2 separate regions of the Homo sapiens genome follow, and region 2 is linked to region 1. Evidence: fine-mapped expression QTL. A gene starts in region 1. The other region holds a variant in brackets. All regions are shown on one strand. Distances are from middle to middle.

Evidence for each region. PIP is the estimated chance that this variant, and not a neighbour inherited with it, causes the effect. A credible set is the group of variants that fine-mapping cannot tell apart.
Region 2: its variant is the best candidate, but not a certain one, in a credible set for the expression of FCRLA in fibroblasts (GTEx, PIP 0.72).

The regions. Positions count from the first base shown.
Region 1 is chr1:161,704,849-161,709,243 of GRCh38, reverse strand. FCRLA (Fc receptor like A) reads right to left here and starts at 2,015. Exons shown (of 5, transcript NM_032738.4): 1 at 1,901-2,015. The coding sequence starts at 1,979. RefSeq lists enhancers at 1,540-1,719, 3,260-3,479.
Region 2 is chr1:161,734,843-161,739,237 of GRCh38, reverse strand. It overlaps the pseudogene RN7SL466P. Among named protein-coding and RNA genes, the nearest start is that of DUSP12, 13 kb to the left of the region's middle. RefSeq lists enhancers at 31-240, 3,028-3,137. The variant C/G (reference allele first, on the strand shown) is at 2,370.

The DNA of each region.
Region 1 (4,395 bases):
AGATAGGACGATTGCTTAAGCCCAAGAGGTCAAGGTTGCAGTGAGCAGTGATTGCACCACTGCACTCCAGCCTGGGTGGCAGAGCGAGACCCTGTCTCAAAACATAAAATAAAATAAAATAAAATCTTGTTGGGTTACTGGGAACTCACTCAATAAACCTTAGGTGGTAGGTATTATTATTTTCATTCTACAAATGAGAAAACTGAACCAGAAATAGAAAAAGTGATTTTCTAAAGTGACATAGAGCTGGTAAATAGAAGAGGGGCTTGAAACAGGAGTATCTGATTCCAAGTCTGCAGTTCTTATCACAAGACAAAAACAAAAAAACATTGTCACTACCCACAAATAGCTCTCAATTTAGTGGAAGACACAGGTAGATGAAAATATTATTTCAGCATAAGTAGGAAAATATTATAATAAGAAAAATGTATCGCAAGCAGCCATTGGAGCAGAAAGAAGCATTCAAGAAAAGCTACCTGGAAAAGATACCATTTAAGCTGAGTCTTTAGGGGTACCTACACATTTGCAAGGAGAAGGAGAGTAGGGTGCCATGGAAAGAACTCATTTCAGGTAGAGATAGTGGTATAAGCAAAGCCTTAGAGACAGGCAAGAGTCTGGTGTGTGAGTATGTAAATATGAACTGATTGAGATTTATTAGAGCATAAGTTACAAGGCTGAGAGGGTAAAAGTAGAGGCTGCTTGGCCTTTTGTGCCATGATAAAGAATTTGGGCTGGTAAACTTGAGTTTTAGAAATTACTCTGTCTGCAGGGTACAGAATTCATTTCAAGAACACAAGGTTTGGACGAGGAGATTAGTTAGGAATTTACTGGAATAGCCCAAGTCATAGAGGATGAGGGCTTGTCCTAAGACATTAGTGATGATCCAGGCAAGGGACTGCTTCTATGAACAATTTAGAAGGTAAAATTGGCCAAACCTAATGATTGATCAGATTTAGAGAATGAAAAAGAAGGAAGAGTCTGGGTTGTTTCTGAGGTTTATGGCCTTGTAAGGGTAGATGCTGGTGTCATTAGCTGAGATCAGAAAGTGGAAAATGAATTAGATGAGGCAGGGGCCAAAAGGACAGATAAGTTCAACTCTAGTCACATGGTGCAGAGACACTTGTGAGATATGTAGGTAGATATGTCTGGTATGAAGCTTGATATTTGAATGTGAAGCTCAAAAGCATGGTTAGGGTTGGGGATATGATTTGGGACTCTTAAATACAGAGTTATAGTGGCAAAAATTAAACAGACAAATAAGCTCATGAAGGAGATTGTGTAAAGAAAGAGGAGTACAGAGGCAAGGCTATAACTATAGAGAACACTAGTGTTTAAGGGGAAGAGAAGAGAAGCTATTAAGGGATCAAGAGAAGTCCATGTAGTACAAGGAGAAAATGGTGCCATGGAAGCCAGGGTAGTAGAGAATGCAAGAAGGAGTAAGTGATCAACAGAGCCCAGTGCAGCAGAGAAGTCCAGCAGGATATGAACTGAAAAGCATGCCATAACCCAGTCAATATAGAGATCGTTGTGCCCTAGACAAAACCAATTCCAGTGGAAGCCAGGCTGCAAGCATTGAGGAGCGTGTGAGAAGTGAGGAAGTGGAGATAGCAAGTGCAAACTATTCTTTTAAGAAAACTTGTCTCACAAGTGAAAGAAAAGAGTTGAGATTAGAGCTAGAGAGGATATCATGATCAGAGGGGACTTTCAGGATGGAAGATTTTTATATTCAGAAAGTAATTCAATCCTGTACACCAAACTTTCTTATACCTACCCTTCTTATTCCACCTGAATACTGCTTCTTTGGAGGGCCAGAATTAGTCCATGTTTCTTTCCTTCTGGTCCTTTCTCCCAAGGTAAGCAAAGCTCCATTCCCACACCAATATTCAAATATTTTACTTACCCAGTAGCATCTGGGCCACCCAGAGCACACCAAGGGAAAGGTAGAGGGCCCAGGCCATGAGGACACAGCCCAGCTTCATGGTGACTGTGTTTAGGTCTCCTGCAACCCCAACACTGATTTTCTTCAACATGAAACCTCTCAGATTAGAAAAGAGGAAGTAAATTTAACTGTCTCATCTCCTTGCATCTGGGGTCTGTTTTCATTTTCTAGTTTGTAATTGGCTTTCATCATTCAGATTTGGCCAACACGCTTTCAGCATCATCTGCACCCTTAGGGCTATGACAAAATGGTAGCACTCTCAGCTGTTCAAGAATTTACTCACAGAGCTCAGGGGCCTGTCAAAGCATGTCATTGTCTGATAGCCAGCTGGCCTTCATGTACACTCTGGGAAAGGTCAGTGCAACAACCACCCTTTTCACTGGTGATGCAACTGGGGACAGAAGGTGGGATGTTGTTTGAAGGCCAATAGAAAATCACTGGAGAATCAATGATGAGAATTCAAATGTCCTGCCCATTCCAACACTTATATGTTTCTAGTGACTAGAAGGTAGCGAGACAGAGAAGGAAGATTAGTCACGGCACCAAGTTAGATATCAGATTAGTCTCTAGTAGGCTCTGACTATCCAAAGCCCACACAAATTTGCATGCAAATTTCTCTAGACTCGTGTCAGCTCTCTATTTCTGGAGCATGACTAAGTCTGCTCAGTCTCAGTGGAAATATGAGTACAAGGCAGGGAGAATCCACTGGGAAAGAGTAGAGGAAAAAGAAAATCTATTCCCAGAGGATCCAGCAGTCAGCTCAGGGCTTAGGCTCATAGCCAAAGCTCAGGCCACTGATCCTGAGGAAATTAGAGATAGGAGGCATCCGATATCTTGAGAAACCTGAGGAGACTCAGGAATAGGAGCAATATAGAGGCTACAGCCTCTCCCTTCCGTTCCAGATGGCCTCCTGGGAACCATTGTCCCTGCCTCTGAATGTTTGCTATTTGTTTGAGGCCTACTTAATGGTAGGGCCCATGTGTCTTTTCACAGTGGCCACATTCCTCCCCTTTCTGTCATCATAACACCCACCAGGCCTCCAGTAGGTTATTTGGAGATGAAATGAGCCATCAGAAATGGGGTAAGGTAGGCCAGGCACTGTGGCTCATGCCTCTGTAATCCCAGCACTTTGGGAGGCCAGGGTGGGCGGATCACTGGACTGGAGGTCAGGAGTTCAAGACCAGCCTGGCCAGTATGGTGAAACCCCATCTCTACTGAAAAAAAAAAAAAAAAATTAGATGGGCATGGTGGTGCATGGCTGTAGTCCCAGTTACTTCAGAGGCTGAGGCATGAGTATCATTTGAACCCAGGAGGCAGAAGTTGCAGTGAGCCAAGATTGCACCACTGCACTCTAGTGTGGGTGACAGAGCGAGACTCCATCTCACAAAAAAAAAAAAAAAGAGAGAGAGAGAAATGGGGGAAGGTAGTTTGGTCCTCCTTGAAGGCAGAGAGAGGGACAGTATGACCCTTCAACTGTGCAAAAACCACAGGTCAGAGCAGACATATCAACCACACGGGCATAAGAGAGTGGATCTTTCTGAGTCTAAAATAAGCATTTAGAATAAAATTTCCATTATCGAGAGGCATACGCTTCTGTGCAGGTGGCCCCAGGGAGTCCAGGGGTGGTTGAATATGGGTGCTGGGGAAGGCAGTGAGGCAGTAAGCCTTGCAGCTGATGTGATGTGAAGCCTCAGAAGAGGAAGAAAAGCCTAGCTAGCCTTAATAATTTTTTTTTTTTTTTGAGATGGAGTCTCTGTTGCCCAGGCTTGAGTGCAGTAGCGCGATCTCGGCTCACTGCAACCTCTGCCTCCAGGGTTCAAGCCATTCTCCTGCCTCAGCCTCCCGAGTAGCTGAGACTACAGGAGCGTGCCATCACGCCCGGCTAATTTTTTGAATTTTTAGTAGAGATGGGGTTTCACCCTGTTAGCCAGGATGGTCTTGATCTTCTGACCTCGTGATCTGCCCACCTCGGCCTCCCAAAGTGCTGGATTACAGGTGTACGAATTAAACAAATAAAATGTGTTTAGATGCATCGCCACTCCTAAAACTACATAAAACATAGACCCTCAGGGTTAGGCAGAGGCTAAGGGGCTTCTAAACAAATCATGATATCTTTCTCTTCTTATGTCACCCTTTCTCCTTTACTGTCCTTACCATAGCATCTTACCTGGATAGAGACCCTCCCCTATACCATCTGCAGCAATCCTTGCAGGACCCCACTGTCAATATGGAAGGCAAGGGGCCTTCTGAAGATTTGGGGTGAAGCTATCAAGTTCTTTACACTGAAATTTCCATTAAGCTGCTGGGAAAATTTACTCGCTTGAAGCTTAATCAATGAACTATTTAGAATAGATGTGATTCACTGCGAGGAAAAAGCAACATTGGGTCTGCTGTTTGTTCATGGAGACTGAGATTCGGTTTATTGAGTAAGTTCCTCCATCAGGATCACCTCAGAA
Region 2 (4,395 bases), 30 kb before region 1:
CATGTGTTCAGTCACCCTGGCCACATCCGCCCTTATGGTGGCCACAGAGTCGCAGTGCTGTCATAGGCCAGGGCTCCTGCAGTCTCGTGTCCTTGTCCCTCACAGGCTTCATGTTCACAGCCCTCTCACAGAGGATCTCAAATCCCCTTACTGGGGCTACAGGGGTACTCCATGGGCAAGTCCCACCTGCTTCTATACCTTCAGGCTATCAAACCTTAAGGCTGCCTCCAATCCAAAATGATATTCTCAGGGCAGATGACTGCAGGAAGGGCTTGTAAATGCTCCTAAAAAGAAGCAGTGTCCACTAGGTGCCAGCATGAGCTTACCAAGAATGGTCTTGCCCTGATAGTCTGTTTTTTTGGTTTTCTTTTTTTTTTTTTTTGACAGGATGAGTAGACAGGCAGATTAGGGAAATGTTCATATACTGGGTACTTCCCTAGGCTTCTGGACAGACCTCCTTGTGGACAAGGGAGATAATTATGAGCTCAATATGAGAACAGTCAACTACTCAGCCTGGCCAATATGGCGAAACCCTGTCTCTACTAAAAATACAAAAATTAGTCAGGCATGGTGGCAAGCACATGTAATCCCAGCTACTCTGGAGGCTGAGGCAGGAGGATTGCTTGAACCCAGGAGGCAGAGGTTGCAGTGAGCCAAGATCGTGCCACTGCACTCCAGCCTGAGTGACAGATTAAGACTTTGTCTCAAAAAAAAAAAAAAAATACAAAAAAAATAGAGAGAGAACAGTCAACTAGGCTGGTAATTGGTCAAACAATCATACCAAAAGAGTACAACACAGATAGGTAGCGATCAAGAAATAGATTTCTAGTGAGATAGAGCTCCACCCAAATTTCTTTCATCTGCTTTATTCAATTTTTTAAAAAAGTAATTTTGATTAGAGCATAAAGATATGCTTACCTAATATGCATGTGTTACAAGCTGGGAGGGACTGTACTGGGATCAAAAATTGTCTTATTACATTAACAAAGACATAATTTAAAAGAGATAAATATAAGGTATAAGGTTTTGCATTTTGGTCCCCAAAATGAACTGCATAAACAAAAGTTGGGGAGCAAAGAGGTGTGCTTTAGATGAAAACAATCTCTCTGGTAAGTTTATAGGCAATAAGCCCAATGGGGCTGGAGAATATCACGAGTCCTGGAGAGGAAGCTATCTCGTTAGGCTACATTCAACTCCATGTAAATGGCTGGAGTTCTATTTCTATTCCATCACTATCAAGTCATTTCAGCTCTCTGGGTCTCAATTTCCTTTCTCTCAAATTAACAAGTTAGACTAAATCCCTAAGTCTTTTCCAGCAATAAAATTCTAGGACTAACCCCTTTGTTGTCTGTAGAGGTGGTGTCAACATCCACTCATTACCATCTCAAGTGCCTTTCTGAACTGCAGAGCCTGGAAATGTAAAAGGGACCGTGACTCCCCTGCAGTGAGGTGCTTGGTGTAATTTAAGTCTGGCCATTCAGAAGCCCTTATACAACACATGGAAGGTAAAAGTGAAGCGGAGGCTGTACTACTGCAGCTGATGTTGCTTCTGGAAACCTGGTTGAGAAAGATTTTGGTTTTTCTTTACCAGCAATAGTACCTACCTAGTGTCCAGGATCTAGCTTTGTGTTGCTAGGGGCAGGGCCCTGAGCATCCATTCCTTGGACCATAGAAGACAGGTATGGTCTTGGCACCGTAGCAATAGCAGTGTCTCTTCTATCGTGACTGTTTTCTTAATCATAGCAATGGCTGTGTGACCCAAGGCTGGCAAATTTCTGATCTCAGAAGAGGCAGCAACTCCCTTGTTGAACTGATATTGGGAAACTTTGCTGAGAACACAAACTACAGTCTGTCTCTTCATCTCTCCCAACCATTTTGTAAGCTATTAAATACTGTGTAATAAATTCCTTCCTCCTTAATCCAGCTAGAGTTAATTCTGTTCTCTGAAATTGAATCCTGATCAATATAATAATATACTTAAAAAGCTCTTTTTTAAAATAAAAGGCCTGGAAGAGTGCACATCAAATTGTTAAATAGTGGTTACATCTATAACCCACTGAGGGAGTGGGTGGGAGGATGGCAAGAAAAATAGGCTTAACATTTTTTTAATACAGTATGAAGTTTTCAAATAGACTATATTCATAATAATGTTTGAAAAATTAAATAAAGTGTAACTTGTATGTTAAAAGCACAATTCATTACCTGATCAAAATGTAGCTCTTTTATCTTTCAAAATCAATTTAAAATGTATTCAGTGTGGGTAATCCTCCCTGGCTCACAGCACCCTGCTACTCAAAGTGTGGCCCAAGAACCTTCAACATTGGCATCAATTAGAAGCTTCTCAGAAATGCAGACTCTCAGGCCCCACC[C/G]CAGACCACTGAATCACAATCTGCATTTGCCGTGGATATTGGCAAACTTTAATGTACACATGAATCACCCAGCGCCCTGGTGATTCATGTGTACATTAAAGTTTGCAAATAGCCATGATTTTTCTGCTTCTTTAGGTAATGGAGAGTCTTATAATGACTTTAGGCTACAAGTATAGTTTCAATTTCTAAATCAGGATGCCCATTCTAGATGTTAATCAGACCTCCAGTCTTTATCCAAAGGTAAGTCTGTCTTCTTACTTATCCATTTAAGGTGTTGACTTGGGGAAGGGACTTGATTGGTGTTTCTCTCTCTCTCTCTCTCCCTCTCTCTCTCTCTCTCCACATCCCCTCCTCCTCTCATTAGCGTCTGTTTGCTTCTCACGTAGGCCAAAGTAGGAGAGCAGAGGGAAGAAAGGGAGAATAGGTAAGGGAACAGAAAGTTATTTGGCTGAGCTGCTTTCTACTCTCTGAATTTGACAGGTGGCTAAAGCTAACTTGTTCTCCCATGAGCATTTTTGTAGACTTTTTGGATGTTTATTTCTGGGAATTGTTTCCTTAGGGTGTTGTGCTCAAGGCAGATGCATCTCTCCTCCAGGTGTTCCAGTGCACCTCTTTCCTCTGCCCCTAGGAATATAGATGCAACTCCAGCTTTTTGGTGCCTTTATCTGCCCCTCCTGGTGACCCTATAGTACAGGAACCAAGGCAACCCCATACTAGGTCTCTTTCTTCTTAATTTTATTGTTATTGTTTCTTTCTTTTTATAAAGACACAGTGTCTTTCTGTGTTGGCCAGGTTGGAGTGCAGTGGGTATTCTCAGGTGCTATCTCACTATTAGTCAGCACAGAGTTTTGACCTGCTCCATTTCTCACCCGGGCCATTTACCTCTCCTTAGGCAATCTAGAGATCCCCTGCTCCCAGGAGATCACCATATTGATGCCGAACTTAGTATGAATACCCAATGGGCATAGTGCACTAGAGCCCAGAACTCCTGGGTTCAAGCGATCCTCCTACTGCAGCCCCCTGAGGAGCTGGGACTACTGGCATGCACCACTGTGCCCAGCAAGCACTCTGTTTTTCATAGGCCACAGAAATATATATAGATGTGGCTCCTGGATCTTTTGTAGGGCTGGCTAATCCTAAAATAGGCTCTTCTATCCTACCACCATAGCTCACTTTAACTTTCTCAAGCCTAAGTCAGGCCCAGTTCCCTGTATCTCCCTACTGCAGAGAATACATTTCAGACCTACCTGGGTGATTCCATGGGTATCTTTCTCATTAGGCTTGAGAATGAGGAGGTAAGCTTCCCATGCCTCCCCACTATGAAGGGGAAATATGGCAAATAAATCATTTCACAGATCCTCTCTCCTCTCCATATCCTGGCCCCTTTTTATCCCTTGACATGATTTCAGAGTCCAAAAGTCAAGGAACAGATAGATCCTCAACCATTTCCTTTGTAAATTCTTCATATGATGATCCAGCTTCAGAATTTCATGTCCACTGTATCTTGAAATATCATTTCTGACATCCTGTCACAAGTACAATTGTTTAATTGTACAAAATAAAAATAAAACCCTGCCTTCCTGCCGTATTCTCCCTGGACACATCCATCTGAGGAACATGGTAAGTAAGTCATGGGTCCCAAATTTTAAAACTGGAGATATGCTATTTAAAAAACGAGTGGTTTGGGGGGACATGGATGAAGTTAGAAACCATCATTCCCGGCAAACTAACACAAGAACAGAAAACCAAACACCGCATGTTCTCACTCATAAGTGGGAGTTGAACAATGAGAACACATGGACACAGGGAGGGGAACATCACACACTGGGGCCTGTTGGGGGCTAGGGAGGTAGGGAAGGGATAGCATTAGGAGAAATACGTAATGCAGATGACGGGTTGATGGGTGCAGTAAACCACCATGGCACATGTATACCTATGTAACAAACCTGCACGTTCTGCACATGTACCCCAGAACTTAAAATATAATAAAAATAAAACAAAATAAAAATAGGTTAACAGCAAAAAT